Homo sapiens: one gene and its partner. The protein of the gene in region 2 binds, or shares a complex with, the protein of the main gene of each other region. Links are inferred from orthologs where the notes say so. Each region holds a gene or a part of one and is shown on either strand. Other genes may lie near its edges. The genes, in order: POR and HMOX1.

Region 1 (14,858 bases), on a different chromosome or scaffold from region 2:
GCCGGGGTCCCTGGACAGGATGGATGGGGGGCCAGGCCCATGTCCAGCCCTCACCCTATTCCTCCGGCAGGTGCTTATGTGCGGCTTTCCCTTCCTCCTCCTTTTCCTCGGCAATTTCTTCACCACCCTGAGGGTTGTGCACCACAAGTTTCACAGTCAGCGGCACGGGAGCAAGAAGGATTGAGGCTGGGCCTTCCCCTGCCGGCCCAGAGGGGCTTCTGTCCTGTGTGTTGTGGGAGGGGATGGGAGGCGCCCCTCGAGTGTGCGTGTATCAGGGGGTCTCTTCTATTCTCCCTTGGGTTTTATGGGCGCTGTGGGCCCTGAAGGAAGACCTGGGCCCAGTGCCCTCAATAAAGAGAGGCCCAGAGGTGGCCTGAGCGTGTGTGTTCTCCTGGGGGAGGGGAGGGCTGGGTGGCCCCACCACATGGGTTCCTGGGGTCTGAGTTAGTTAAGTTGATGCAGGTGGAGGTCCCAGATCTACTCACACAATACCAGGCAAATACAGAAAACAGAACTTTATTCCAAGGGCCAGAGGTTATTTAAAATTATTTACACTCACTGGAAATCACGTGGAGGGGCTGGGCCCAGCTCAGCAGAGAGAAAGAGCCCTTCTGTGCAGCCACCGAGGGCCAGAGGCCTCCAGAGGCATGGAGCCCGGTGCCCCCATGCAGGCCCTGGGCTGTGCTGCCAGGGGCCGGTGGACCTCACCTGGCCTGGGGGCTGAGGAGGATGCACCCCAGGCCCAGAGGAGTCTTTGTCACTGGGCCTGCGCCCATGCCAAGGCCAAGCCAAACACACCCAGGAGACTACGGGAGGGAGCCAGGAGAGCTGATTACAGGCCGGAGTCTGTGGGGTGGGTGGGGCAGGCAGGCCCCTAGCTCCACACGTCCAGGGAGTAGCGGCCCTTGGTCATCAGTTTCTTGATGTAGTCCACCGCCTGCGCGTGCTCCATGGCCCCGAGCTCAGCCACGATGTCGTAGAAGGTGTTCTGCACATCCCTGGCCATGTTCCGTGCATCCCTGGGCAGGAAGAGGGGGTGCTGGGGGCTGGGCCAACTGTGGCAGGCAGGGCCTTGTCCTCCCTGCCCCCTATTCCAGTGACCCCACTCACTCACCCACAGACGTAGATGTGGGCACCGCCTTCGATCAACTTCCACAGGTGCTCTCGGTCTTGCTTTAGCAGGTGCTGGACGTAGACCTGGGGCCAAGGGTGGTGCTGTGAGGGGGGCACTGTGGCTGTGGCCCTGCCAGCCTCATGCCCACCTTCGTGGGTGCCCGCCCGTCTCACCTTGTGGGACTGCTCCCGGGAGAAGGCCACGTTGAGCTGGGTGAGCGCACCGTCCCTGTGGAACTGCGCCAGCTCCTCCCGGTACAGGTAGTCCTCATCCGAGCGGCGGCAGCCGTAGTACAGCAGCGTCTCCCCCACCTCCTTGCCTGCGTGGCAGGGGCCGGGGTGAGCGCGGGGCTCCCAGTCGTCACCCCCTCTCCCCCATGGGACCCCACTCACCCTGCTGTCGCAGCCAGGCCCGCTCCTGGATGAAGCCTATGAAGGGTGCCACCCCGGTGCCGGGGCCCACCATGATGACAGGCGTGGTGGCCTTGAAGGGCAGGCGGAACTGGGACTTGCGCACGAACATGGGCACCAGCGCACGGCCGCCGTTCTCCCCGGCAGGCTCCTTGGCCCGCAGCCAGTTGGTGGCCACGCCCTTGTTGATGCGGCCAGCCTTGGTCTCGTACTCCACAACCACCGCACAGATGTGCACAGAGTTGGGGTGGACCTGTGGGGAGGGCCGTGTGAGCTCCACCGCCACACCGAGGCCCTTGCCCAGCCCCGGCCCCAAGTCCCGTTCTGCAGGCCAGCCCCACTCACCCAGGGCCTCTTCCAGCCCACCTGGCACCCAAACCTCAGAGGCCCCCTCCCCAGCGGCTTCCCGGACTGGTTCTGGGGACCGGGGCTGGACAGATGCTGAGAATCTCACAAGCCAGCCCGACTGAGTCCACAGCCTGGGGAGGCATTTGGAGCTGCGCTGGGGCTGGAACTGGAGCTCAGGGCTCAGATCTCGGAGCTCCTGTGCCGCCTTGCACTCTGCCTGCTGTGAGCAGGGCTGGGCCTCCAGCGTGTGGCTGGCAGGGCAGTGCCGGCCCTCACCTTGGAGGATGAGGCGATGGAGTAGTAGCGGGCCTGCAGGCGCGGCAGCAGCTCACACAGGTGGTCGATGGGGGGCCGCAGGGACGGGCAGTCCTGCAGGATGGCCAGGATGTGCCTCCGGGCCTCCACCACCCAGCTCAGGTACAGCTCCTAAGAGACACGGGGGTGAGATGGGGCTGATTGGGGCCCACGGAGCTCGGAAAACGGCGGGGTGACGGGGCGGAGGTTGCGGGGGCTGAGGGGGCGCACCTTGCCCTCGCCGGAGGAGGAGGCCATCTTGCGCAGCAGCTCCTGCTCCGAGGGCTCCGAGGCGTACTGCGCCAGCTCGTACAGCACGTTGGTACGCGGCGGGTTGGTGATGTCCAGGTAGTAGGTGAGGGCCGTGCGGTAGGACGTAGGGCACGGGAATGGGTGCTTCTTGTTGGACTCCTCTGCAGGGAAGAGACAGGCAGGACTTGGGGTAGGCGGCCGCCTCCTGGGGATGGGTGGCTGCGGCAGGAGGGGGTGACACCTTGGGCCAGCTCTGCGGCAACAGGTGCCCCAGCTGGTGCTGGAAACAAGGCCTATGCTCTCTGATGCCTCCCTGGCCCTGGGGCCAAGTCTGGGGCCTCCAACCAGACAGGAAGTCCTCATCAGAGGCAGGACCCTGCTAGGGGAGGTGCGGGGGAGCCCCTGCACACTAACGCACCCGCTGTGCTTTCACCGCACACTACACGGTCTGACACAGCCCCGCCCAGGCTTCCCTACAGGCGGGCTGTGGAAGCCGACAGTAAGGGCAGCCCTGGCATGGCAGCTGAGGACCGGCAAGCAGGGGTGGGGCGAGGTGGGCTCGGCCCAGGTTGGTGACCAGTGGGGTCCGAGGGCTTCACAGCGGGAGGCTCAGGCTGGGCAGCCCCACCAGGCCCAGGCAGCCCCGCGTAATGGCTACTGCCACTCGGCACCACTGTGCACCCTTGGGGGCCTGGGAGGGCTGCTGACTCCTGACTTCAGTGAGGAGGTGGGGGCAGCCCCAGGCCGGCAGAGGTGGGTCGTGGAGCCAGGCCCTCCTTCCCAGCAGGACACAGTGGCCATGGGGGAGCCAGGGCTGCCTCTGCCACCAGGCCTCAGCACCTCACTCCCTTAAAGGACTATGACAGTGACGGGGTAGGGGGAACCCCGACAGAGAGGGCTAGACCCCTAGGGCCACCCCGCCTCCCGTTTGCTTGGGATCCTGTAACCGTGGAGTCTCGGTGCAAGGGCCTCCCAGGCACCGGGGCTTCAGGCCTAAGCAGAAGCTCAACCCAGGGCCTTCCTACAGGCCCAATCCCGCGGCTGCCTGAGCCCGGCAGGGCGCCCTGACTGTGGCACTCACCATCCAGGTTGTTCAGGGACATGACGACGTCCAGGTCGGCACCCAGGATTTTGCCCAGCTGGTTGACGAGAGCAGAGTCGTTGGCTGGGTACACAGCCACGTGGTCCCCAGATTCATACCTGGAGGGAGATGTGAGGCTCGGGAGGGGCGGAAGGCTGGCCCTGCCCCAGGTCAGGAGGCCCAGAGTGAGGGTTCAGGGGGTGACAGTGGCAGCTGGTACCTGATTTTGGAGTCCGAGATGTCCAATTCCAGGTGCATGAGGTGGCGCTCGGTTCCCTGGTTCAGCTTCCGGTTGGTGGTGACTGCAGCCAGGAACGGATTCTTGGCATCAAAGGGGCTGGGTGGGGAGGAGAGAAGCACAGTGAGCGGCCGGGGCTTTGATCTGAGTCTCCGTCTCCAAGGACGCTTCTGGTTGCACAAAGCACAGGGAATCTCAGAGATCTCCATGAGGAAATCTCACCGGTTACATCAAGGGCTCTCCCAGCCTGGTCCAATGCAGTTCTCTTTTTTTTTTTTGAGACAGAGTTTCGCTCTGCCACCCAGGCTGGAGTGCAGCGGCGCGATCTCGGCTCACTGCAACCTCTGCCTCCCAGGTTCAAGCAATTCTCCTGCCTCAGCCTCCTGAGCAGCTGGAATTACAGGCATTCGCCACCATGCCTGGTTAACTTTTATATTTTTACTAGAGACGGGGTTTCACCATGTTGGCCAGGCTGGTCTTGAACTCCTGACCTCAGGTGATTCACCCACCTCGGCCTCCCAGAGTGCTGGGATTAGAGCTGTGAGCCACCTCGCCCAGCCCTAATGCAGTTCTCTCTATAGTCCCACCACATGGGCAGAGCTGGGTCATCAGTGTCTGTTTACAGATGTGGAAACTGAGGCTGGCCCCTAAAAGAACTGTGAGGCCCAAGCTGACGGTGCCACAGGCTGGAAGGTGGCTGGTCCCCAAATGAGGAGCACAGCTCCCCCACCCCCACACGTCCTGGACTACACCGTGGACAAGAGAGAAACTTGCACTCCGGAAAGCCACCGACATGCAGGGCTTCTCGCTCCAGCCAGGCTGGGGCAGGCCTACAGAAAGCAGGGCAGCTGGTCTTGGATGCAGTGGCACGAGGACTTCCCTGGGTGGCTCGGGCAGGAATCTGGGCAGCAACCAGGGGCCATCAAGGGCACAGAGAGGAACGCCAGGTTTCTCCCCCAAGTCTATCTATGGAGATAGATTCTAAGAAAATGAGCCCTTCTGCCAAAGAGGATCCTAGCCACAGAGGCCAATGCACTGTCCTAGTCGAGAAGTGGGATGTGCCCCGCTGCCCTGGGCAGTGCAGAGTAAGGTGGCTAAGTGAGCTCAGTACAAACTGGGCGAGTGCCAGTCTCCTGGGGCCGGGCCGTGGACAGGTCGTGGACACTCACACCCACTCGGGGCACGGGGTCTGGTGAGAAGGGCCCTGTGGGGATATGGGGATACACGGCAGACTGAGCCTGGGGTGCACCAGTGGCCATAGAGCCGTCTGCCCCAAGCCACGCTCCCTCCACTCACGGCTTCTGGTTCTCGTAGCTCTTCAGCCGGCCCATCTCCCCCATGTACACCTTGGCCGCATCTATGTCGGTGTGGACCACAAGCTCGTACTGGCGAATGCTGGAAAGGGGAGACCAAGGGTGAGGCCGGGAAGCGGCAGGGGTCAGTCCCGAGAGGGAGGGGTTGGACTACAGGGGAGACCGTGCATGGCCTTTGGGGTGAGGTCCCAGGTACATACGACAAGAAGCAGGGGAGCCCCTGCTGCAGATGCACAAGGAGGGCAGGCGAGGGAGCAAGGAGGGAGGCGGCGTGGAGCTGCCGGGGGCCAGACGCCCAGAAGCCGGGGCAGGGCTGGGCAGGCTTCCATCTGGGAGAAGGTAAGGAAGCCCGGGCAGCACCCAGGGGCCATCAAGGGCACAGAGAGGAACGTTATGTTTTTGGCCAAGTCTGTGGAGGCAGATTTTAAGGAAATGAGCCCTTTTGCCAAAGTTGAACCTAGCCACAGAGCCCGACGCGATGTGTCCTTGTCGAGAGGTGGGATGCACCCCGCTGCCCCAGGGCAGTGCAGAGCAACGTGGCAGAGTGAGTCCTTGGCTGGGACCAAGGTCCCTCCTCGACCCTATGACGGAGTGTCTTCTAACCTTGCTGCGACCCACTGCCAGCCCTTGTTCCAGGGTGGCTGCCCTCGGCACAGGACCCGCCCAGGCCACCCACCGCACCTGCGGGCACTTGCTCACCTGGACTCCTCGCCAGTGGCTTCCACCCCAAAGTGTTCACACACGGCCGGCCAGAACTGCTCTCGCCAGGTGATGAAGTCCTCCTCCAAGCTGGGCCGAGGAGAGGAGAGGGGGAGCGGCTCAGGGGAGGCCCATGTGGCAACGGTACCTGGTGCCAGGCACGCCCCGACCCCACCCCATCCCCAAAGCTCAGGACTGTGCACCCTGGGGCACCCAGCGACATAAACCCAGAGCATCAGGAAGGCTCCAGGGAGTTGGGCAAGCCGAAAAGCAAAACTGGCAGGGGCAGGGCAGAGGCAGGAGAGCCCCTTCCCTCTGTGTTGGAGGTGCGTGTCGCTGAGTCTCAGCTGACACAATGGTGTGCGCGCCCCTCACGTTCCACGGCCCCTGCCTAAGCCCGCCGCGCTGATCATGGTGGCAGGGTGGGCACTCACTTCCCATCGTCGTCGCCCAACCCCAGCTCAAAGATGCGCTGGGCGCCGAGCTGCTCCAGCCGCTTGTCCACGTACTTGCCCATGGCATTGAAGTGCTCGTAGGTCTTGTTCCCAAGACCAAACACCTGCGTGGACACAGGGGCCGCTCTGAGGCCTGGCCCTCGACCTGACCAGTGGGAGGGGCCATGGGGGCAGGGCGGGAGGCCCCACAGCACTGGCTGAGCTGCTGGCAACACCTGCAGGCCTCCGTTCCACCAGGCGCCTCGCACTGCAAGGAACACTGGGCCACTGAAGAGGCTTCATCTGGTTGACCTGCAGCCCACAGCCTGCCCCGTCCACTGCCAGCCTCAACCCACAGGGAAGCGGGGCCAGCCCACCCTCCCCACCGGGCTGGGGCTCCAGCTCTCCGAGGCCAGGCAGGTCTCAGTCGTCCAGCCAGACCTTTCTTGCCTTTAGTCTCCAGCACCCAATGCCCCCTGGAGCCGACTGGGGCTGGGGACAGGGAGGGGACATTCTCGTAGTGCTGGGGTCTGGGGCAGAGGAGAGGGTCTCACAAGTGGCCTGCCCTGGCTGCTGAGGACAGGGTGGGGGTCTGGAGGGCTGCCTTTCAGATACATGGATCTGGAGTCCCCAGGGAGGCACCGCAGGCCACCGGGAGCCCATAGCAGTCTCTGGGTGACTCACCGCGAACTTGACCCCAGAGAGATCCACGTCTGTCTCCTGCAGCCAGTCGTAGAAGTCCTGGGCATTGTCGGTGGGGTCTCCCTCACCGTAGGTGGCCATGCAGAAAACCACCAGGGCGTTGTCGATCTCTGGCAGGCTGCTCAGGTCGGCCTGCAGAAACAGGGACAGGACCGCGCCCCGGCCATGACTGAGCCTGTTCAAGGTTCAACCCGCACCAGATGGGGAAGGCCAGGTCCTGCCCAGGGTGGCACCAGGCCAGGGATGTCTGAGTGTCGTGGGATCAGAGAGAAGTAACAACACGGAGGGGCTGGGGCATGGGCATTTGTGCCAGGTGGGCAGGACAAGGTCACCCGTGTTAGGCTGGAGCGGAGAGGATGTGTTTCTAGAGGAAAGTGAAGCTTGGCACAAAAGAGCCATCAGAATGCAGCCTCCTGAGCTGATGCAGGTCTGGGGCCACCCTGGGAACCTCATTCCAAAGCTCCCAGGCACCGCACAGCCCCGGTGCACACTGATATCTAACTAAACTGTTCATCAACTGCAAATGCAGCCTGGAGAGGGCTGTGGGGTAGTGCCCGTCACCAAGACCTCGAAGGAGAGGGGAGTGGAGCAGCTGGGGAGGGTGGGTTTGGTTTGGGAGATGTGGCGGCCGCCAGGAGGGCAGCCGGCACTCAGGGGAGGGCCAGTCCTGGGGAAACGATGCCTGGCACGTGGCTGCAACTGCAGGAATGGCCCTTCCGTCAGTCAGCCCGGGCAGGGATGGCAATGACCCTCACGGGAAGGCAACTTCCGAGGACGTCTTCCCAGGACCCCACTCCCTGCCGGCCTCCCCCTGCTGAGGGGCGCCCTACAGACCTGCTCCCTGTCCTACCCACTGCCTCCATCTGGGGCCAGCACGCGGTGGCAGCTTACCAGGTCATACTCCTCAGGGTCCGCTGACATGCCTCGCATCCCGTAGCGGTGGGCGTCCTTGGACAGGCGGTTGGCAAACTCCTCTGCAGTCCCCGTCTGGGAGCCGTAGAACACGATGATGTTCCTCCCCTAAGGAAGGCAGACACAGGGTTGGTGAGGGCCACAGACCTCAGCCACGGCTCCGGTGAACACCCACTGGGCAGGCCTGGCAGGCGGGGGCCCTCCAGGCCGCCCCCTTTCCTTCCTGGCTTTGAGTCCCTTCTAAGTTCCTCTGGGACTTGCTTCTCACTGTCACAGCCACTGTGGCAAAGGAGGGCAAAGGTCACCAAGGCAATCTCACACACGCGGCTGCTCAAGATCACACTTCTGACATTTTCATGACACGGGGAAAAAACAAAGTTAAAAAAAGTAACCAAATGTATAGCCCCTATCCGTGGGGGAATGGTTCCAGGACCTCCCATAGATACTTACATCCAAGGATGCAGCCGGGCGTGGTGGCTCACACCTGTGATCCCAGCACTTTGGGAGGCTGAGGCTGGCAGATTACCTGAGGTCAGGAGTTCAAGACCAGCCTGACCAACATGGTGAAACTCCATCTCTACTAAAACTACAAAAATTAGCCGGGCATGGTGGCGTGCACCTGTAATCCCAGTTACTAGGGAGGCTGAGGCAGGAAAACAGCTTGAACCCAGGAGGTGGAGGTTGCAGTGAACTGAGAACACGCCACTGCACTCCAGCCTGGGTGACAGAGCAAGACTCCACCTCCAGTGGCTCACGCCTATAATCCCAGCACTTTGGGAGGCCAAGGCGGGTGGATGACTTGAGGTCGAGAGTTCAAGACCAGCCTGACCAATATGGAGAAAACCCTGTCTCTACTAAAAATACAAAATTAGCCGGGCATGGTGGCACATGCCTGTAATCCCAGCTACTTGGGAGGCTGAGGCAGGAGAATCGCTTGGACCTGGGAGGCAGAGGTTGTGGTGAGCCGAGATCGCGCCATTGCACTCCAGCCTGGGCTACAAGAGCAAAACTCCATCACAAAAAAACCCAAAAAACAAAAATCCAAGGATGCTCAAGTCCCTGCTATAAAATGATGTGGTATTTGTGTGTAGCCTACACACATCCTCCAACATACTTTAAATCATCTCTAGATTACTTATTAATGTAATACTTAATGTAATGTAAATTCTCTGTAAATAGTTGCTATGCTGTATTGTTTAGGGAACAGTAAGATGACAGTATGTGTTCAGGACAGACACAACAATCCATTTTTTCTCCAAATATTTTCAGTCTGCAGTTGAATTCTTGAACTCCGAACTCACGGATATGCAGGGCTGGCTATACAATCCAATTGTGTTATATAAATAATAGATATGTATATCAAAACATACATATGTATTTTCTTTCTATACCCACAGGCACAAAGAAAACAGACTGGCAAGAAATATACCGAGGGTCCCTAAATGGGGCATTCTGGATGTGTTTTGCTGGTTAAATACATATTCATTATAAAATTTTACAACAGGGAAAGGTCCTAGGGGCTGGCTCACATACTCGTCAGTCCACCCTCCTCCTCCAGCAGCTGTTGAAAAGCCTGAAATCCTATTCCCCAGAGCCCGTTGGGGCTGGAGTTGCAGCCAATTCGGTTCAGCCAATTGAACGTGCTTTGCAAGATCTGAAGGGTGGAAGGGAGGCCAAGGCTTCCTGGCCCCTCATGCACATGTGAGGTTCTCTGCAGTGCCTGGTCTTCAGTGCCTAAGGCATTTTTCTTTTTTTCTTTTCTTTTTTTTATTTTTGTGTGTGAGACGGAGTCTCGCTCTGACGCCCAGATTGGAGTGTAATGGCACGATCTCAGTTCACTGCAACCTCTGCCTCCTGGGTTCAAGCAATTCTCGTGCCTCAGCCTCCTGAGTAGCTGGGATTACAGGCACCCACCACTATGCTAGGCTAATTTTTTTGAATTTTTAGTAGAGACTGGGTTTCAACACGTTGGCCAGGCTGGTCTCGAACTCCTGACCTCAGGTGATCTGCCCACCTTGGCCTCCCAAAGTGCTGGGATTACGGGCGTGAGCCACCGCACCCAGCCACCTGAGGTATTTCTAATAGTTTTGGTAGCCAGACTGCAAGTTCCTAGTCCTGGCTACTGGCTTATGTGATGTTCAGAGGCAGCTGTAGAAGTAGCTTCTTATCCTGGATCACAGCTACACGTGGTGTGTCCTGAACTCAACAGTTTCAGGCTGCATTCGAACAGAGCAGCTACCTTGCAGGTTGCTTCTGTGATATCTTAGAGACCAACCTGCTCCTTCAGCCCCTCCAGTAACCTGGAAGTACCCCCTTCCCTGTGTGAAATCCCTTCCAGATTAAAATGCCTAAAGTAGTCTCTAGTTTTCACACTGAATCCCACCTCATACAAAATAAAACTTACGCGGCCGGGTGCCGTGGCTCACTTCTGTAATCCTAGTACTTTGGGAGGCCGAGGTAAGAGGATGACTTGAGCCCAGGAGTTTGAGACCAGCCTGGGCAACATGGCAAAACCCTGTCTCTACTAAAAATACAAAAAATTTATCTGGGTGTGGTGGCGCATGCCTATGGTTCTAGCTACTTGGGAGGCTGAGGTGGGAGGATCACTTGAGCCTGGGAGGTTGAGGCTGAAGTGAGCTGTGATTGAGCCACTGCACTCCAGCCTGGGTGACAGGAGTGAGACTGAGTCTCAAAACAAAACCACCACCAAAAAAAACTTAGGGATTACAATAAATGTTCTTATACTTTTTAAAGTTCCTGAATTTTCCACAAATCATTGTTAAATCATTAAAAATTGTTTTTTTTTTTCTTGAGACAGAGTTTTGCTCTTGTCGCCTAGGCTGGAGTGCAGTGGTGCGATCTCGGCTCACTGAAACCTCTGCCTCCTGGGTTCAAGCGATTTTCCTGCCTCAGCCTCCTGAATAGCTGGGATTACAGGTGTCCGTCACCATGCCTGGCTAATTTTTTGTGTTTTTAGTAGAGACAGGGTTTCACCATGTTGGTCCAGCTGGTCTCAAAGCTCCTGACCTCAGGTGATCCGCCCGTCTCAGCCTCCCAAAGTGCTGGGATTACAGACATGAGCCACTGCACCCGGCCAAAAGGATTTTTTTTTTTTTTAGATGGAATCTTGCTCTGTTGGCCAGGCTGGAGTGCAGTGGTGCGATCTTGGCTCAATGCAACCTCCGCCTCCCGGGTTCAAGTGATTCTCCTGCATCAGCCTCCCGAGTACCTGGGACTACAGGTGCATGCCACCACGCCCGGCTAATTTTTGTATTTTTAGTAGAGACAGGGTTTTCGCCCAAAAGGATATTTTAAAATAATCACCGTAAAAATACTTAATAGAAGAGAAAGTGCTCATGATTATCAGGTTAAGAGAACAAAAGATGACCTAAGATAGCAGCTAAATATTTACAGGAGCATCAAAATATATAAAATACCTAGAAATAAACTTTGTAAGAGATGTGTCAGAAGCTACTGAACTACACACAAAGGACTCACGCCAATGGAAAAGCACCCCGATTATGGACAGGGAGTCTCGACCCACAAAAATGGCAGCTCTATTTATGTCACTAGAGAAATGTGGCATGATGTAATAGAAATCTGAACCAGCTGGGTGCAGTGGCTCACACCTGTAATCCCAGTACCCTGGGAGGCCACACCAGGAGGACTGCTTAAGCCCAGGAGTTTGAGAACAGCCTGGGCAACAGAGTGAGACCCAGTCTCTACCAAAAAAAAAAAAAAAAATCTGAACAGCTTTTTTTTCCTCAACAAATTGATCCTAAAAGTCACGGAAAAATAAGTAAGAATCCATATATTAAAACATTATTTGGCAATAAAAAGGAAGTACTAACATATGCTACAGTGTGGGTGAACCTTGAACACGTTGCGCCCAGTGAAAAGAACCCAGAGACCCAGCTATTATTATTATTATTTGACACAGGGTGTAGCTGTTGCCCAGGTTTGAGTCCAGTGGTCACTGCAATCTGTGCCTCCCAAGCTCAAGCTATCCTCCCACTTCAGCCTCTCAGGTAGCGGGGACTATAGGTGCGCACCACTGTGTCCCACTAATTTTTCTATTTTTTGTGGAGATGGGGTTTCGCCATGTTGCCCAGGCTGGTCTCAAACTCCTGGGCTCAAGCGACCTGCCCATCTCGGCCTCCCAAAGTGTTGGGATTACAGGCATGAGCCACTGCGCCCAGCCCAGGAATTAAGTATATGATAAAGGTGGCATTTCAAACCAGTGGGGGAAAGATGGACTCTAATACATGGTGTTTAGACAGCTATGTAAAATGTAGAGTTGGATTCATACCTCACATCTTACATCAGGATAAATTCCCAATAGATCAGATTTTAAATTTTGAATATGAAAAACAAAACCCTAAAAGTACTAGAAAAAAAAAATACAGGAATATCTTTATCTCTTTAGCATGGGGAAGACCTTCAAATTATGACTCTAAGACCAGAAGTCACGAAAAGAAAGAATCATATAGGTGACTCTGTAACTTTTACACAGCAAAACAAATAAAAATGCGATCAGCTAGGTTGAAAGACAAACTTTTTTTTAAGAGATGGAATCTCACTAAAAGACAAACTCTTTAACGGGCAAGATATTTTCAACTTATATCACAGACAAGAGATTCATCTCCCTAATAATTTCAAGGAGAAAGATCAATCCCAACAGAAAAGCAGGCAAAAGATGTGAAGAGAGAATCTATTAAAAAAAGAAAAAAGAGGCTGGGTGCGGTGGTTCAGGCCTGTAATTCCAGAACTTTGGGAGGCCAAGTTGAGTGGATGACCTGAGGTCAGGAGTTCGAGACCAGCCTGGCCAACATGGCAAAACCCTGTCTCTACTGAAAATACAAAAGTTAGCCAGGCATGGTAGCACGCACCTGTAATCCCAGCTACTCAGGAGAATGAGGCATGAGAATTGCTTGAACCCGGGAGGTGGAGATTGCAGTGAGCTGAGATCACACCACTGCACTCCAGCCTGGGCAACAAAGCGAGACCCTGTCTCAAAAAAAAAAAAAAAAAAAAGAAAAGAAAAAAGAAAAAGAAACGAAGCCATCTAGACCTAGGTGGGTGAAAATCTACTGAATCTCATTCATAAAAATGTAAATTACAACTATACTGAGTTTTTTTTTTAAGCCTAGAAAACTGACAAAAATCTAAACTTTAATAACAAACTGTTGGCAAGGCTGTGGGGAACAGTTTTCTCACACGTCGCTATTCTTGAGCGCGTGCCACGGTGTGACTCCTACGGGGACGATTTGTAGCTTCTATCACGATTGCAAACACATCTACCTTCCAATCCAGCAATTCCACTTCTGGGACTGCTTTGTATTTGAAATGTGCAAACCGAGCTACATATTCACAGTGACATTGTTGGTAAGAGCCAAAGAGTAGCAACAGCCCCAGTGCCCATCTTTAATAGGACAGGGTTAAGTGCGTTACAGTGAATCCAGATGGCCATATAATGGAATCATGGTACAGCTAAGATGATGGCAGTATCTTTGTATTGATATGGAAGGATCTTTGAGACATATCAAGTTGTTTTGTGTTCTTTTTTTTTTAAAGCAAGGTCAGCCGGGCGCAGTGGCTCACGCCTGTAATCCCAGCACTTTGGGAGACCGAGGCAGATGGATCACGAGGTCAGCAGTTTGAGACCAGCCTGGTCAACATGGTGAAACCCCGTCTCTACTAAAAATACAAAAATTAGCCAGGCACGGTGGCAGGCGTCTAACCCCAACTACTCCGGAGGCTGATGCGGGAGAATCACTTGAACCGAGGAGGTGAAGGTTGCAGTGAGCCAAGACCGTGCCATTGCACTCCAGCCTGGGCGACAGAGCGAGACTCTGTCTCAAAAAAAAAAAAAAAAAAAAAAAAAGCAAGGTCTGGAACAGTGCACATAGTATGCCACGTTTTGTGTTTTAAGAAAAGTGTAGGCTGGATGCAATGGCTCGCACCTACAGTCCCAGCACTTTGGGAGGCGGAGGCAGAAGGATTGCTTGAGGCCAGGAGTTCAAGACCAGCCTGGGCAACATAGCGAGAACCTGTTCCTATGAAGAATAAATTAAAAAATTAGCCAGGCGTGGTGGTGTGCACCTGTAGTCCCAGCTACTTGGGAGGCTGTGGTAGGAGGATGGCTTGAGTCTAGGAGTTTGAGGCTGCAGTGAGCTATGATGGCGCCGCTGCACTCCAGCCTGGGCAACACAGTGAGACCCTGTCTCTAAAATAAAATAAAGGTTTTTTTAAATTAAAAATAAGAGTCTCTGTTTGTTTTACTTGTATGTTCATACAGGAACTCTAGAAGGATCCATAAATAATAAGAACAGTGGGGATGAGTGGGTGGCAGAGGGGAGCTTTCCACTGAATAGTGGATGTTTTTATTTTAACTATGTAAATGTAGTACTGATGCCTACAATTAAATAGTTAAATTGGCTGGGTGCGGTGGTTCACGCCTGTAATCCCAGCACTTTGGGAGGCTGAGGCGGGCGGATCACCTGAGGTCAGGAGTTCAAGACCAGTCTGGCCAACATGGTGAAATCCCATCTCTATTAAAAATACAAAAATTAGCTGGGCGTGGTGGCACGCACCTGTAATCCCAGCTACTCGGGAGGCTGAGGCACGAGAATGGCTTGAACCCGGGAGGTGGAGCTTGCAGTGAACCGAGATTGCGCCACTGCACTCCAGCCTGGGTGACAGAGCGAGATTCCATCTCAAAAAAAAAAAAGTAACAAAAACAAAGCGGAGAGAAAATGGCAGTGGTGCCACGACCGCAGCTCTGTGAGATTTACCTCTGCTCCTGGACAGGCCAGGGCCAGACGGGAGAAGCTTCGTGAGTTAGAGGGAGGGTCTGTTCTTAGACTTTGGTTTGTTCAAAAAGTAAAGATTCAAGGAAACAAACTGTCCCAGCAACAGCAGAGCTGCTTCAGGGCTTTGGTTAGGCAAGAATGACTCCCAAGCGAGCCGGGCTGCGTTCCCTCTCCTGGCCACCGGGACATCCTCTATGCGGTGACGCCAGCCGTCTGCTAGACTTGATTACATGCCCATCGGGGCCGAGG
Region 2 (16,002 bases):
AGGCAGAGGCTGCCCCAGGCTGCCCGACCCTCACCTGGATGTTGAGCAGGAACGCAGTCTTGGCCTCTTCTATCACCCTCTGCCTGACTGCGGGAGTCATCTCCAGGGAGTTCATGCGGGAGCGGTAGAGCTGCTTGAACTTGGTGGCACTGGCAATGTTGGGGAAGGTGAAGAAGGCCAGGCCCTCGCCAGAGCTGGGCAGGTCCAGGGCTTTCTGGGCAATCTTTTTGAGCACCTGGCCCCCAGACAGGTCACCCAGGTAGCGGGTGTAGGCGTGGGCCACCAGCAGCTCGGGCTCTGTGCGCCCCACCTCGTGGAGCCGCTTCACATAGCGCTGCATGGCTGGTGTGTAGGGGATGACCTCCTGCCAGCGGGGCCCGTACCAGAAGGCCAGGTCCTGCTCCAGGGCAGCCTTGCGGTGCAGCTCTTCTGGGAAGTAGACAGGGGCGAAGACTGGGCTCTCCTTGTTGCGCTCAATCTCCTCCTCCAGGGCCACATAGATGTGGTACAGGGAGGCCATCACCAGCTGAAAGCAGAGTGAGCAGGTCAGGCCGCCAGCCACATAGAAGACCCCCACCTCTGTCCGTCCCGTCCACTACTGCCTTTGGAAAGGCCCTCCTCACTTCGCAGCTGGGCTCTGACTCCTTCTGCCACCCCTCGCTACAATCCTCTTCACACAGCAGCCAGAGGGGTTTTTACAAGAGGAAAAGACGATCATGCACTTTCTCAGCCTAAAAACCTTTTACCCCACTGGGCAAAACAAGCAGCCTAATTGAATCCTTATATAAAGATCTAACAAACTGGCCCAGTGTGGTGGCTCAAACCCCTGTAATCCCTGCACTTTGGGAGGCTAAGGCTGGAGGATTGCTTAAAGCCAGGAGTCTGAGACCAGCCTGGGCAACATAGCCCAAAACCCACCTCTACAAAAAATTATTTTAAAAAACTAGCTGGCTGGGGCCAGGTGCGGTGGCTCACGCCTGTAATCCCAGCACTTTGGGAGGCCGAGGCGGGAGGATCACAAGGTCAGGACATCAAGACCATCCTGGCTAACAAGGTGAAACCCCGTCTCTATTAAAAATACAAAAAAATTAGCCGGGCGTGGTGGCGGGCGCCTGTAGTTCCAGCTACTCAGGAGGCTGAGGCAGGAGAATGGCGTGAACCCGGGAGGTGGAGCTTGCAGTGAGCTGAGATCTCGCCACTGCACTCCAGCCTGGGCAACACAGCGAAATTCTGTCTCAAAAAAATAAATAAAAATAAATAAATAAATAAATAAACTAGCCAGCTGGACGCGGTGGCTCACGCCTGTAATCCCAGCACTTTGGGAGGCTGAGGCAGGCGGATCACGAGATCAGGAGTTCGAGACCAGCCTGGCCAAGAGACCAGCCTGGGCAATATGGTGAAACCCTATCTCTACTAAAAACACAAAAATTGGCCAGGCATGGTGGCAGGCACCTATAATCCCAGCTACTCGGGAGGCTGAGTCAGGAGAATTGCTTGAACCCAGGAGGCAGTGGTTGCAGTGAGCCGAGATCACGCCATTGCGCTCCAGCCTGGGCGACAGAGCAAGACTTTGACTCAGAAAAAAAAAAAAAAAAAAAAAAGCCAGGTATGGCTGTGGGGGTGCATGCCTATAGTCCCAGCTACTCCAGAGGCGGAGGCAGGGGTATCACTTGAGCCCAGGATTTCAAGGTTGCAGTGAGCTGTGATCATATCACTGTACTCCAGCTTGGGGAACAGAGTGAGCAAGACCCTGTCTCAGAAAAAAAAAAAAAAAAAATCCAACAAAGGAATTGCTATTCCCATTTTACAGAAAAGGAAACTAAGGCTCAGAGAGGGTATGAGACATGGAGGTTGCACAGCTAGTAAGAAATGAAACTAGATTGAAGACCGGGCATTGCCAGGGACCCACCATGGCTCAGGAGAGGGGAACAGCTGAAATGAAAGTGCTTAAAGGAGATTGGCCATGTGCTTCTGGCTTTTGACCTCTGCGTAACCAACTACAGGGCACAATTCTCCTTCCTGGAGGCCTATTCTGAACCCCACCACCTCTGCATGCTGGGCTGAGGCAACAGGTCTTGAGTGTACCTTGGCTTGGGGCACTAACTCCCGTTACACATTAATACGCCCGTTTAAATTTGAAGGAGAACAAAGTTAAGACATTTAGGTTGGAGTTTCTGAGTTATTTCTGAGCCACAAACATTCAAAGCAGCTCTATTCCTTGAGGGGACAGAAAGCCAGGCAGTCTGGTACAAAAGAGCCTGGGTTTTTGAGTGTGACGGACCTGGTTCTTACCCAACTCTGCCAGTCCTTAACTGTGTGACCATGGGTGAGCCACTTGCTTTCTCTGGTCCCAGCTTCCTATCCTATCCTAGAGCAGATGATCTGAGGTCCGTGTGACTGTGCTAGCCAACTGTGCTAGTCAGTTCCCTCACCTGCCACATACTAGATGGGGCTGGTGTGAGGATTAAGTGAGAGGATCTGGGCCAGCACAGAGGGCAGCCTGGCACTTAGCGCTCACATGAGAAGGGCTGTGATAAGTGCCACGTCCACCAGCTTAATGTAAGTGAGCACTGGATTCTCTCATGGATCTTGGCGCCTCCTTAGAACCCTGTGACTTAGAGGCAAAATCCAAAGTCTAAGCTGGCTGGGGATGGGATATTCCAGCATTCACCTCCCTGCACCCACTGTCTCCAGTCACACTGCAGCAACTGGGTGTACCTCATCTTTTTAAGGGAGAGGGGAGGAGGATGAGGAAGACCCATTACAGGCCCAAGGACCCCACCCAGCCTGGAACCACAGATTAAATCTCTCCTCATTAAAGCATGTCTCGGCCGGGTGGTGGCTCACACCTCTAATCCCAGCACTTTGGGAGACCAAGACGGGTGGATCATCTGAGGTCAGGAGTTCGAGACCAGCCTGGCCAACATGGTAAAACCCTGTCTCTACTAAAAAAATACAAAAATTGGCCAGGTGTGGTGGTGGGCACCTGTAGTCCCAGCTACTTGGGAGGCTGAGGCAGGAGAATCGCTTGAACTTAGGATGCGGAGGTTTCAGGGCACCGAGATCTTGCCATTGCACTCCAGCCCGGACAACAGAGTGAGACTCTGTCTCAGATAAAATAAAATAAATAAAGCATGTCTCATGTTGGAAGTAGGGGGTGGCAGAGGGTGCAGATTGCAAAAGGGACTGGGATGAAGGTGGTGGGATATAGCTCCCTACTCCCCACCCCCACACCCTCTGTTCAACCTGAACAAGCTCTTCCCCACGCTGATGTTTTAACACCCAGTATCTTCCCGGTTCTTCATCAAGTGCTTTCCTTCTATTTGCATGAATTTCACAACAGTGCTGGGAAACAGCAAAATCAGTACCTGGCATATAGTGGGTGCTTAAGAAAACCCTGCTGTTGAAATACTCTTTTACAGATGGGGAAAACGTGGCTTAGGGAGATTAGATGAGGCACCCTCAGTCTCACTGTTAGAAAAGGGTTCTGTTAAGACTCCAACCTATATTATTCCTTATCTTCAGAGGCAAATTCGAGTTAGATCAGGAGTACAAGCTCTGAAATACAAGGAGTACAAGGCTGAAATCGGTCTTGGTTGATTTCAGCCTTTTCCACTTACTGGCTGTGTGACCTTCTGTTAGTCACTGAACCTCTCTGAGCCTTCCAGTCCTCATCTTTCTCGTCAGGGTTGAAGCACAGATTAGAAACCACGTGTACAAAATGCCCAACATGGAACCGGTGCTCAGTCAACGGCACTGCTGCCCCAGCCCCTCCACAACATTACAGAGCAGGCTGAACTTGCTGTGTGACCTTGGGTAACTCACCTTCCCTCTCTGAGCCTCAGTGTCATCATTTTTAAGATGATTCTATTGGACATGCCCATCTGGTCCCTCAGCATCCCCACTTAAACCACTGGTCTGAGCCTTGGGTCCACCCACACCTGCCACACCCTCCACCAGGGCTAGTCCCACCAAGCCACATACCTTGAAGCCGTCTCGGGTCACCTGGCCCTTCTGAAAGTTCCTCATGAACTCAGCATTCTCTGCCTGGGTGTGCACCTCCTTGGTGGCCTCCTTCAGGGCCTCTGACAAATCCTGGGGCATGCTGAGGAGGAAATGGGAAAGGTGAACACAAAGCTGGCTGGGGGTGGGGTCCTTCCCAACTGCTGAGCCTCCCACCTGTGGGCAGGCCTTCAAGAGACTCCCATCCTCATTCAGGCCACGTTCTCAATCGCTTTAAGATGCAGCCTTGTGGCTGGGCACGGTGGCTCACGCCTGTAATCCCAGCGCTTTGGGAGGCCAAGGCAGGTGGATCACCTGAGGTCAGGAGTTCGAGACCAGCCTGGCAAACATGGTGAAACCCCGTCTCTACTAAAAATACAAAAATTAGCCGGGCATGGTGGCAGGTGCCTGTAATCCCAGCAATTATGCCTGTAATTGCTTGAATCCCGGAGGCAGAGGTTGCAGTGAGCTGAGATCACACCACTGCACTCCAGACTTGGTGACAGAGAGACTCCATCTCAAAAAAAGAAAAAAAAAGAAAAAAAGGGCCAGGCATGGTGGCTCACGCCTGTAATCCTAGCACTTTGGGAGGCTGAGGCGGGCAGATCACCTGAGGCCAGGAGTTTGAGCCCAGCCTGGCCAACATGGTGAAACCCTATCTCTACTAAAAATACAAAAAAAAAAAAAAAAATAGCCGGGCATGGTAGTGGGCGCCTGTAATCCCAACTACTTGGGAGGCTGAGGCAGGAGAATCGCTTGAACCCAGGAGGCAGAGGTTGCAGTGAGCCGAGATCGCGCCACTGCACTCCAGCCTGGGCAACAGAGCAACACTCCATCTCAAAAAAAGAAAAGCAAAAAAGCAAAAAAACAAAAAAACAAAAAACAAAAAACAAATTCAGGCTGGGCATGGTGGCTCTCGCAGCTTTGTAAACACTCTTCAGTCATTAAAACACTAAATAATACAGTCCCCCAAACCAAGGGGGAAATCCTGGTACAGGTAGTTCGCAGTGGAGAGGAGGAGGAGGTACAGCATAACCCAGGAAGAAGCAGCAGCCCCATGAACCGGCATCTCCAAGTTTGTAATTGCTTTGATTGGCTTTTAGACCCAATATTTAATTCAGTTATTTTGTTAAAGTTCCAGATGCAAATCTCATGACCCCCTATCATGTTATGCTCATCATGAAGGCGTCAGGGTTAAAAAGCCTGAGAAAGTCTGCTTTAGTCAAAGAAAAAGTCTTTCTGGGAGTATTTCTGTCATGGGTCCGTATCCCTGCCTCCCCACAGAATTGTCATTTTTCCCTTTTCTCCTGCCCTGCTTCCCTGTTCTACAACACAGCTGGTCAAAGTCTCAGGAGAAATGGCACATGTCTGTAAGTCCCAGCTACTCTGGAGGCTGAGGTGGGAGGATGCTTAAGCCCAGGAGTTAAAAAAAAAAATACTAACAAATTATTGAAAGAAGGGAATGAGTGAGACCTGGAGGTGGGCAGACCAAGGTTCAAGGCCCAGTTCTGACACCAGCTAACTGAGCACTCTTGGGCATGTCGCCTCCCTGAACTGGGCTATCTGTGAGACATGGAACACCGCAGCCAGGGTGATGTCTGGCTCAGGTCCTCCGTAGCTAGTGAGGGACAGATGCCACCAAGAGAACCAAGCATGCTCCCCCAGGCTGGCAGAGCCCCAGAGATCTAGATTCAGCAGAGAGCAACTCCAAACACACCTCGAAAGTAGGATTAAAAAAAAAATTGGCTACCTCAAAGACTGGATACTCTAGGGACACTCCCATCTTGGTCACCAACCGCATACCAGGGTGCCAGGCATGTAAATTACCGTTCCTCCCTCCAACTACCCTACGGGCACAGGCAGGATCAGAACCCCGCACCTCCTGACTCCAGAGCCCAAGTTTCTGGCTCCTGGGCTCTGTCGCTGTGTGGCAGTGTCCCGGGGTGGGGCTAGGACGCAAGCAGGGTTGGGAGAGAAAGGCGCCCGTCCCGCGTCCCGCGCCCCGCGCTTGCCTGTCGGGTTGCGGACGCTCCATCCGGCCGGTGCTGGGCTCGTTCGTGCTGGCTCCGCGGGCGGCGGCTGCGCTGAGGACGCTCGAGAGGAGGCAGGCGTTGACTGCCGGAGCCGCGGCCGGTCACATTTATGCTCGGCGGGTCACGTGGGCCAGGCGGAACAGCTGATGCCCACTTTCTGGCCGGGCGTTGCAACACCCGCAGGGGCCCGCGCCCAGCCCGCCCCGGGCCAGTGTGGGGTGGAGAGGAGCAGTCATATGACCCTTGGGAAACAAAGTCTGGCCATAGGACTTTTAGAGAAAACACACACACACACACACACACACACACATACACACACACACACACACACACACACACACAAAACCTTTAAGGAAATCTGAGAAGCTGCAGGCTCTGGGTGTGATTTTGCTCCTTCCAGAGCCCCCCCTTCTGCTCCCTGTCCCCTTGGGACTTGATGCACCCCAGGCGTCCCAGAAGGTTCCAGAAAGCTGGGAGGCAGCGCTGCTCAGAGCAATAGCCTGGTGGGCAACATCAGGAACTTAGCAACCCCAGGCTCTGCTGTCTCCAGCTCCCTAAAATGTCACCTGCTGGAATCCTCTGCTGACTGCTTGCCTCCTCACACCCTCTTTAAATGTACATTTAGGATCTGTTTTTTGAGTTCCTGTCAAAAAACAGAGACTCTAGTATTTTCATGGTTCATCCCTACAACTGACCTGTGAGGGTAGATCGCTTCTATTTTACAGATGGGGAAACCGAGGCTCAGAGGGGTGCAGTGGTGTCACACATAAAGCAGGATGCCAGTGTCCAAACCCAGGGAGGAGACTAAGTCCCCGCCTGCCTCCTCCACACTCTGGCAGCACCTGGTATCCGCCTGGACTGGGACACCTGTCATACAAACTGCTTCCCTGCTGGAATGCGTGGGACACTCTTCCAGGCACATTCAGGTCTGACTTATACTCAGTGCCTGCTCAGGGCCCAGAGCAGAGCTGGCCCTTGCTGATCGCCTATTGAATCAATTCTGCATGAGGTGGACTCCTTAGAACTCGGGGGAAATAGGGTCACTGGGTGAACCCAGAGGACAAAACGAATGGACCAGATGATTCATACAGTCCTTTCCCAATACTGTGATTCTCATTCTAAGATTTTTTTTTTAAGATGGCTTTCAGGCCTGGCATGGTAGCTCACACCTGTAGTCCCAGTACTTTGGGAGGTTGAGGTGGGAAGAGCGCTTTGAGCCCAGTCGAGGTGGGAAGATTGCTTTGAGTTCGAGACTGGCCTGGGCAACATAGGGAGACCCTGTCTCTACAAAATATAAAATAAATTAGCTGGGCATGGTGGCACATGCCTGTGGTCCCAGCTACTTGGGAGGCTGAGGCTGGAGGTTCACTTGAGCCTGGGATGTAGAGGCTGGAGTGAGCTGTGACCACGCTACTGTATTCTAACCTGGGCAACAGAACAAGACGCTGTCCCTCAAAAAAAAAAAAAAACAAAAAAAAAAAAAAAAAACTTCCTGGAATTCAGCCTAGGGCCACTACAGCCCAGAGGCACTTCTGAGATTGTATTGGAAAGGATCATCCTCCCAAGGGTGAGCTAAGGGGCCTTGAAAAAAATTCCCCTTCTTCCTCTGAAGGTTCCCCGAAAACCAACCGACAAAAGTCAGGTTAAGAGGAGAAAAGACATACAAAAATGTATTGTAATGGGGTAATCACGGAAGAATGGTGACCCTGTAACCCAGTGGAGTACAGAGGCTACCCAGCCTTTTTTATAGGGGAGAAGGGAGATAGGGAATGCAGACAATTCTTTTGAAAGACAGTAAATCATTAGCAAGAAGGAATGGCCCTGGAGGTGAAAGGCCGACTTTAAGGGAAGGTGGAGGTGGAGCCGCACAGGGACAAAGGTTGTCCTAGGCAGATAAAGTCCCCCAGGTAATCTCTTGGCACTGTCCTCAGAAGAACAGGTAAATCTGTCTGGGTCTGGTGATGACTCCCAGTCTCTTTCTCTCTCCAGTGGTTGATCTTTCCTGGATATTTGATGAGATTACTAGAAAAAGGGCTTAACACTGGCCGGGCGCGGTGGCTCACACCTGTAATCCCAGCACTTTGGGAGGCTGAGGCAGGAGAATCGCTTGAACCCGGGAGGAGGAGGAGGTTGCAGTGAGCCAAGATAGTGCCACTGCACTCCAGCCTGGGTGACAAGAGCGAGACTCTGTCTCAAAGGAAAAAAAGACTTAACACAATTGCATTTCTTTTGTAAAGAAGTGTTCTTGGTCAGATAAGGAAATTCCAGAGAGCGTCTCTCCCTGTGCTTGTCGGGGGAACAAGACAAGCTTACAGGGACCTTGACTCTGAGGCAGCTCCTAAGGCCTCTCATCATGTCAAAGCACCAGTTGTCCTGGTATCACTTTCTGAGCCCCAACAGTGGCATGTAAAGCACAAAGGTGGAGACCTTGCCTACTACTTTGCTTTGTAAATTCCCAGTTCCTGGAATAGTGCCTGGTAGGTCACAGTTAATACTGAATGCATGCCTGAATGAATAGATGCTTCAAGGTCTCTTTCTGGGAAAAAATAATAATATTGTTAGGCTGTAATATTGCTGGGCTGATAGAATGGGCTGGAACCAAGCCACAATTCCAAACTGTCATTCTAACCAGCCTTTATTGAGAATTTACTATGTGCAGAGACTTCACGCGCGTGATTGCAGCCCATCCTGACAACAGCCTTGCAAGCTATTTTCATCTCTATTTTGCCCACATGAGCACTGAGGGACAAAGAGGATAAGTCATTTTCCCAAGTCATACAGTTAATGATGGAAGAGCCAGGATTCAAACTACAGCACTTTGAAGCCAGTCCCCACAGTCCTGACCACCACACTCCAACCCTTCTCACAGAGGGTCCAGGAGTTTAGGGGAGATGAGTTTGCGTGTATAGATCCAGAGTCTGTCCATTCAGCGACCCTAGAGGGTAAAACTCATGAGATCTGAACCCTTTTTATTTAACACAGGGAAGCAGGGACCCCAAGAGCAGGAGGGACTTGGCCAGGCTATGCCCCCCATTGGAAAGAGAACCTCCAGTGACCCAGGGTTCCTGGCTGCCGGTCTGGGCTTGCTTTCTTTTCTAACTGTTCTCTGGGAGCCCCAGACTTCGTTAGAACAGCCCCCCACACAGTGGGTTGCTGGGGTGCAAGAGGCCAGGCCAGAGTTGTTCTGGTCCTCTAGGCTGTCCCAGGGCTGAATTTGTGGCCCTTTCGCATGCTGATTCAGCCTCCTGACTTCCCCTTCTTTTTAGTCAAGCAACAGGATGATCCAAATGCTATTCTCTCTCCTCCTGCTGGGCCAAATAAAAGCCCCTTAAAGGTGTCCACATTCTAATCACCAGAACCTGTGAATAGGTTACCTTTTTGCTACCTTACATAGCAAAAGGATCTTGCAGAAGTGATTAAGTCAAGGATGTTGAGATGGGGAATTATCTTGGATTATCCTCTTGGGCCTTATAAGAGGGAGGCTGGATGGTTGCACATACAGAAGGTGACAAAGAAAGCAGAGGACAGAGAGAGAGACTGGGAGATGCCATGCTGCTAGCTTTGAAGATGGAGGATGAGGCTGGGCACGGTGGCTCATACCTATAATCCCAGCACTTTGGGAGGCTGAGGTGGGCTGATCACCTGAGGTCAGGAGTTCAAGACCAGCCTGACCAACATGGTGAAACCCCCATCTCTACTAAAAATACAATAATTATCCAGGCAAAAAAAGTAGAGAACTTTCTCCTGCTGGAGGCAGAAGAGATGAGGCAGATGCAGAAGTCAGAGAGATGTGAAGCATAAGAAGGCCTCGGTGGATTGCAACATTAAATCAGGGGCAGATTGAGGTGGACTTCACAGGGTGGGAGCTGGGGGACCCAGCAGGGGAAAGGCACAGACTTAGAAAAGACAAACAAGAGGCTTCTGCCGTTTTCTAGAAGTTTCACTTCCTCCTGCCTACCATTAAAGCTGCCCTTTCACCTCCCACCTAAAGAGAAGCTGAGGAGGCACTGGTGACTCAGCAAAATCTAGCAAAATCCGCCTTCCCTTTGTTTCCGCGAGTCCCCCCTCCCAAACATGACGCAGCAGAAATGCAGCTGCACGAGGGGATGAGGAAATCGCGACTCAGCATTCCCAAGGCGCCTTCAGGAAACAGAAGTGGTTTGGGCAGCAGGGAGGGGGGCGGGTCAGTGACTCGCCAGCCCCTAACAGTGAAAAACAAAGGCGAGGCCCTGGCGTGGGAGGAATCATGGGGAGGCCTCTTGGCCAAGCTGGATGGTGGCTAAGGAGAGTGAGGAGACCTTGCCTGGATATTCTCCTCAAGCAGGGGACGTCCCCAGTAAATAAGGTCACAGACGGTGTCCTGACCACACCCACACCCCACACAGACCCAGAAAGAACATGTGCTCGATTCTGCAGGGCAGGGGCTCCAGTGAGGGTCTACAGCCTAACTGCTGTGTGACAGGCTGGAAAACAGCCTTCTTCAGCAAGGAAGACAAGCCCAAGTTATTTTTTAAAAATCCATAGACTGGGCCAATTGTGGTGGCTCACGCCTGTAATCCTAGCACTCTGGGAGCTGAGGTGGGTGGATCACCTGAGGTCAGGAGTTCAAGACCAGCCTGGCCAACATGGTGAAACCCCATCTCTACTAAAAATACAAAAATTAGCCGGGCGTAGTGGCAGGTGCCCGTAATCCCAGCTACTCGGGGGAGCTGAGGCAGGAGAATCGCTTGAACCCGGGAGGTGGAGGTTGCAGTGAGCTGAGATTGCACCACTGCATTCCAGCCTGGGTGAAAGAGCAAGACTCCATCTCAAAAAAAAAAAAAAGAAAAAGAAAAAAATCCATAGGCTGAAGTGCAAAACACCGAACCCTTCTGATGCCAAAACACCCCATAAATAAGGTTGAAACCCTACCAACAGACTGGAAGGAAGTGTTTGCCACACATATAACAGACAAAAGATGAACATTCCTAATAAAAGAGCTCGCCAAAGCAATACACACACACATACGCATAATGTATATAGAATTATATAAAATTCTAGAAAATTATGCAAGCTAGTCTAATTGGATCACTGGTTACCTAGTTGAAGTGAGGGGATTACCAAGGAGTACTAGGAAACTTGAGAGTGATGAATACACCCTTTATCTTGATTGTGGAGATGCTTTCACAGGTTATAAGTTGTGTCAAAATTCATCAAATTGTATACTTTAAATATGTGCAGTTTATTGTATGCCAATTATATCTTCATGAAGCTGTAAAACAGATTCTACACAGGCTTTCCTGAAGCTCTTCTCCTCACATTATGGACCCCTCCAGGGGCCCCAGTTGCCCCCACCTCCGTCCTGACTGTGAGCTCCTTGAAGTCAGCAAGGGCCATGTCAGATTCACCTTCTTATGCCCTTAGCACAAGCCAGGCTTTCACTACATATTTAATCAACGAGGCTTAGCAAGCAGGGTGAAATTCCCTGCCTAATATCACACAGCTCACCCGGGATTTGAGGCCAAGTGTGTCTGGCTCACTCAGATTCCACAGCATCGCTGCCCTAGGAGCCCCTGGGCCCGAGGCAGCAAAGGGCATAGAATGGCAACATCTTTTCCAAACATCGTGCAGCCTCTATTAGCACGTACCCAGTGACCGAAGACCCACAGCCAGACAAGAAGGCATTCTAGCCTTTGAAGGATGCAGACTACCAGGCCAGTCTTGCCAAAATGGAGCCTGACTATACCTCCCAGATCTGGTATGCCCTGGTTCAACCTGATCAAGGTACCATTAGGATAGTATAGACTAGCTAAAGCAATAAACTCTAGGCAAAAGGACTGCAGTCAAATCCAGGATCCATGACTTCCCATCTGTGTACACTGGAACACCCTAAGCTTTTATTTCCTCATCTGACAAAATGAGGAATAATAACAGCATTGACTCAAGGGGATGTGGTGAGCATGAAATCAGTTTGATGCATGTAAGAAGCTTACAGTGAGGCTTGGCAGAGGAGGCACACGGTAAATGTTAACCGTTATGTTGGTCAGAGAGGCATCCAGCTCCCCTTTCATGATTCAGCCAGAGCCTTTTTCCTATCTAGAAATTTCTGGATGATTCTGCAGTAGGGCGGGGGTCACTAACATCCAACAAACCTTGATTTCAGTCAGGAGTTTTGAATCTCAGGTTCTTCATATTTACCTTTTTTTTTTTTAGATGGAATTTCGCTCTTGTTGCCCAGGCTGGAGTGCAATGGCACTATCTCGGCTCATTGCAACCTCTGCCTCCTGGGTTCAAGCGATTCTCCTCCCTCAGCCTCTGAGTAGTTGGGATTACAGGCATGCACCACCATGCCCAGCTAATTTGTACATTTTTAGTAGAGATAGGGTTTCACCATGTTGGCCAGGCTGGTCTCGAACTCCTGACCTTAGGTGATCCACCTGCCTTGGCCTCCCAAAGTGCTGAGATTACAGGCGTGAGCCACTGCGCTCGGCCTGTATTTACCTTTTCCTCAAAAAGTAAACTTCTCCGAAATAATTTCAAATGTCCAGAAAAGTCGCAAGCATAGTACAGAGAATTTCTATACACCTTCATCCAGATTCACCAGTTGTTAGCATTTTGTCACATTTGCTTTATCGTATTCTCTCTTGATATACTATGCATATATATTTTTGAATATATACAGATATATATATCTCCTCCTGCCTCCATCTCCTGAGTATCTAGGACTATAGGCTCATGCCGCCACACCTGGATAATTTTTTTCATTTTTAGTAGAGATGGGGTCTTGCTATTTTGCCCAGGCTGGACTCCAACTCCTGACGTCAGGGGCAGTCCTTCTGCCTTGGTGTCTCAGAGTGCTGGGATTACAGGTGTGAGCCACCATGCCTATCTACCCCCAAATTATTTAGCATGTATTATATCTGGAGTGCAGTCCCTGACATATGGTTATAAAAATCAGGAAATCTGGCTTCGATATAAATTCATTATATTGTAGAGGAGGCAAAATTTTACCTATACCCTTTTAGAGTTTTCTGCTGGGCCTGAGAATTAAACTGACATGAGACAGATTAGTAGGAGAAAAGCATACACATTTATTTAACGTACATTTACATAACACGTGAGCCGTCCTAAGGAAAAGAAGACTCAAGGAAACAGAGCCAAACACTTACATGCAGATTTGGACACAGAGTAGTAAACTGTGAAAACGTGACAAGGCAAAGTGGCGTGGGTGTGGGTTAGGGTGGTTAACTGGGTAGAGAAGAGACTAGGAAGAGCTGGCTTTAACAAGCTTTGTTTGTACAGATTTATTTTGGCTTCAACTTCCTGCCATGGATGAAAGGAATGCTAATTTTCTCCTCGTATAGAGAAAAGTCTTCCATATGGAATTTCATCTCTTGCTTTCAGGAAGAAAAAAAGAAGGTCAGAGGCTCACTGCAACCTCTGCCTCCCAGGTTCACGCAATTCTCCTACCTCAGCCTCCCTAGTAGCTGGGATTACAGGCATGCGCCACCACGCCCGGATAATTTTGTATTTTTAGTAGAGATGAGGTTTCTCCAAGTTGGTCAGGCTGGTCTCGAACTCCTGACCTCAGGTGGTCTGCCTGCCTTTGCCTCCCAAAGTGCTGGGATGACAGGCCTGAGCGACCATGCCCAACCCACAGCAACCTTTTTGCACCTGATTTTGTTTGTTTGTTTTTAAAGTGCCTTTATCCCAAAATAATCCTTTTTTTTGAGACAGAGTCTCACTCTGTTTCCCAGGCTGGAGTGTAGTGGTCTGCAACCTCAATCTCCTGGGCTCAAGCAATCCTCCTGCCTCAGCCTCCCAAGTAGCTGGGATTATAGACATGCACCACCATGCCTGGCAAATTTTTTATATTTTGTATTTTTTGTAGAGACAAGGTTTCACCACGTTGCCCAAGCTGGTCTGGAACTCCTGAGCTCAAGCAATCCCCCCACAGTGGCCTCCCCAAGTGCTGGGATTACAGGCATGTGCCACCACGCCTGGCCAGCTCAAAATAATCCTTAATCAATGAATGGGGAGTGGTGGCACACACCTGTAATCGCAGCTACTTGGGAGGCTGAGGCACGAGAATCGCTTGAACCTAGGAGGCAGAGGTTGCAGTGAGCCGAGATTGTGCCACTGCACTGCAGCTTGGGTGACAGAGACCCTGTCTCAAAATAATAATAATAATAATAATAATGATCCTTAATCCAAAGTGGCACATTTTGGGTGGCATATCCTGAACTCCTTCAATATAAAGCCTATATTCAAATGTCCCCTATTGCCCCAATAACCTCCTCTTTAGCCGTTTTACCAGTCCAGGTTCCAGCCCAAGAGGTTGCATTGCATTCACTTGTCCTGCCTCTTTGGGTTCCTCAGCCTTTGAAGTTTTTTTTTTTTTTTTTTTTTGAGGCGGAGTCTTGCTCTTTCGCCCAGGCCGGACTGCAGTGGCGCGATTTCGGCTCACTGCAAGCTCCGCCTCCCGGGTTCATGCCATTCTCCTGCCTCAGCCTCCTGAGTAGCTGGGATTACAGGCGCCCGCCACCACGCCCGGCTAATTTTTTCTATTTTTAGTAGAGATGAAGTTTCACCGTGTTAGACAAGATGATCTCGATCTCCTGACCTCGTGATCCGCCCGCCTCGGCCTCCCAAAGTGCTGGGATTACAGGCGTGAGCCACCGCGCCCGGCCTTGAAGTTTTTGAAAATGACAGGCCGGCCATTTTAACAGATGCCCCTCCATTTGAGTAGCTCCCACCTTTAGGTTGCAGCGCCCCCGCGCCCCGCTCAACAGCGATTTAAAGTGTGAAGCCCCCAGCACAGCGCCTGGCCCGTGGCAGGCCGTCGGGAGATAGAGGTTCCCTAAAACAGTGGTGCGGGGAGTAGCAAGAGGCTAGAGGAGGAGTGAGAGGAAGGGTGGAGGAGCTGCTATGGCTTCCCTAGGATTCAGGCCCCAGACGAGGCCGAGGACGTGCTGGCTGAGGCATGTCCCGACTCCAGACTCCAGCCGGACAGTCCGGACTTTGCCCCAGGGGATTAAACCTGGAGCAGCTGGAACTCTGAGGAAAACAAATCTCTAGACCGTGACTCAGCGAAAACAGACACCGGGACCGTGACTCAGCGAAAACAGATCTCGGGGCGGTGACTTAGCGAAAATAGACCTCGGGACCGTGACTCAGCAGGAAAAACACGGCCACGTGGCTCGGGAAAGGATTACTCAGCAGGGGCAGAGCGGCGCCAGATGGGCTGGGCGCGGCGAGCGGGTGGGGGGCGGGGTAAGGGGGGGTACGCCTGGGCGGGGGGGGGGGGGGCGGGTGGCATCGCGCCCCAGGCTCTGGGGACAGTGTGCCTTTCTTTAGGACCTGGCCCCTGCCTCTTCGACTCTCTAAGCTCTAAAGGGTGGTTAACAGCCTTCAGGGCTGCTGGTAGGCTTAAGTGAGCCCAGAAGTGAGCAGAAGTGAGAACTGCCTAGTAGTTGATACTCACCGGGTCCCTTAACAAAAAACCTTGAACGAATAAACAATGCCTCTGCCAATCACAGGCTCGGCAGCACCGTGGGAACTTTTTTTTTTTTTTTTTTTTGAGATGGAGTCTTGCTCTGTCACCCAGGCTGGAGTGCAGTGGCACGATCTTGGCTCACTGCAACCTCTGCCTCCTGGGTTCAAGCAATTCTCTGCCTCAGCCTCCCGAGTAGCTGGGATTACAGGCACCCATCACCATGCCCAGCTAATTTTTGTATTTTTAGTACAGATGGGGGTTTCACCATTTTGGCCAGGCAGGTCTTGAACTCCTGACCTCGTGATCCACCTGCCTCAGCCTCCCAAAGTGCTGTGATTACAGGTGTGAGCCACCGCACCCGGCCTTTTTTTTTTTTTTTTTTTTGACGAGTCTTGCTCTGTCGCCCAGGCTGGAGTGCAGTGGCGTGATTTCGGCTCACTGCAACCTGTCTCCCAGGTTCAAGCAATTTTCCTGCCTCATCCTCCCTAGTAG

Evidence for each region.
Region 1: the proteins of HMOX1 (region 2) and POR are in contact, whole or in part, in a crystal structure (PDB 3WKT), measured with the Rattus norvegicus proteins. The link is inferred for Homo sapiens from one-to-one orthologs. Residues at the interface, in NP_036712.1 of Rattus norvegicus: Asp12, Ser14, Glu15, Gln38, Ala75, Pro76, Glu81, Lys149, Ile150, Lys153, Ser171, Asp173, Asn174, Thr176, Lys177, Phe178, Lys179, Gln180, Leu181, Arg183, Ala184, Arg185, Asn187, Thr188; in NP_113764.1 of Rattus norvegicus: Thr88, Thr177, Asp208, Asp209, Arg313, Arg514, Lys515, Gln517, Arg519, Leu520, Phe522, Lys523, His626, Lys665, Met667, Thr668, Lys669, Gly670, Tyr672.

Annotation. Positions count from the first base shown.
Region 1 is NC_000007.14:75,972,498-75,987,355, reverse strand, and holds the end of POR (NADPH--cytochrome P450 reductase), read right to left. Parts: intron 7,906-14,858; coding exon 7,777-7,905; intron 7,018-7,776; coding exon 6,868-7,017; intron 6,309-6,867; coding exon 6,184-6,308; intron 5,840-6,183; coding exon 5,750-5,839; intron 5,133-5,749; coding exon 5,034-5,132; intron 3,837-5,033; coding exon 3,720-3,836; intron 3,619-3,719; coding exon 3,500-3,618; intron 2,580-3,499; coding exon 2,398-2,579; intron 2,299-2,397; coding exon 2,149-2,298; intron 1,778-2,148; coding exon 1,507-1,777; intron 1,434-1,506; coding exon 1,288-1,433; intron 1,198-1,287; coding exon 1,115-1,197; intron 1,020-1,114; coding exon 875-1,019; 3' UTR 501-874; downstream 1-500. Other genes in the region: TMEM120A (transmembrane protein 120A), read left to right, coding at 133-324. UniProt on the Homo sapiens protein: This enzyme is required for electron transfer from NADP to cytochrome P450 in microsomes. It can also provide electron transfer to heme oxygenase and cytochrome B5.
Region 2 is NC_000022.11:35,371,209-35,387,210, reverse strand, and holds the start of HMOX1 (heme oxygenase 1), read right to left. Parts: upstream 6,116-16,002; 5' UTR 6,038-6,115; coding exon 6,015-6,037; intron 4,106-6,014; coding exon 3,985-4,105; intron 527-3,984; coding exon 35-526; intron 1-34.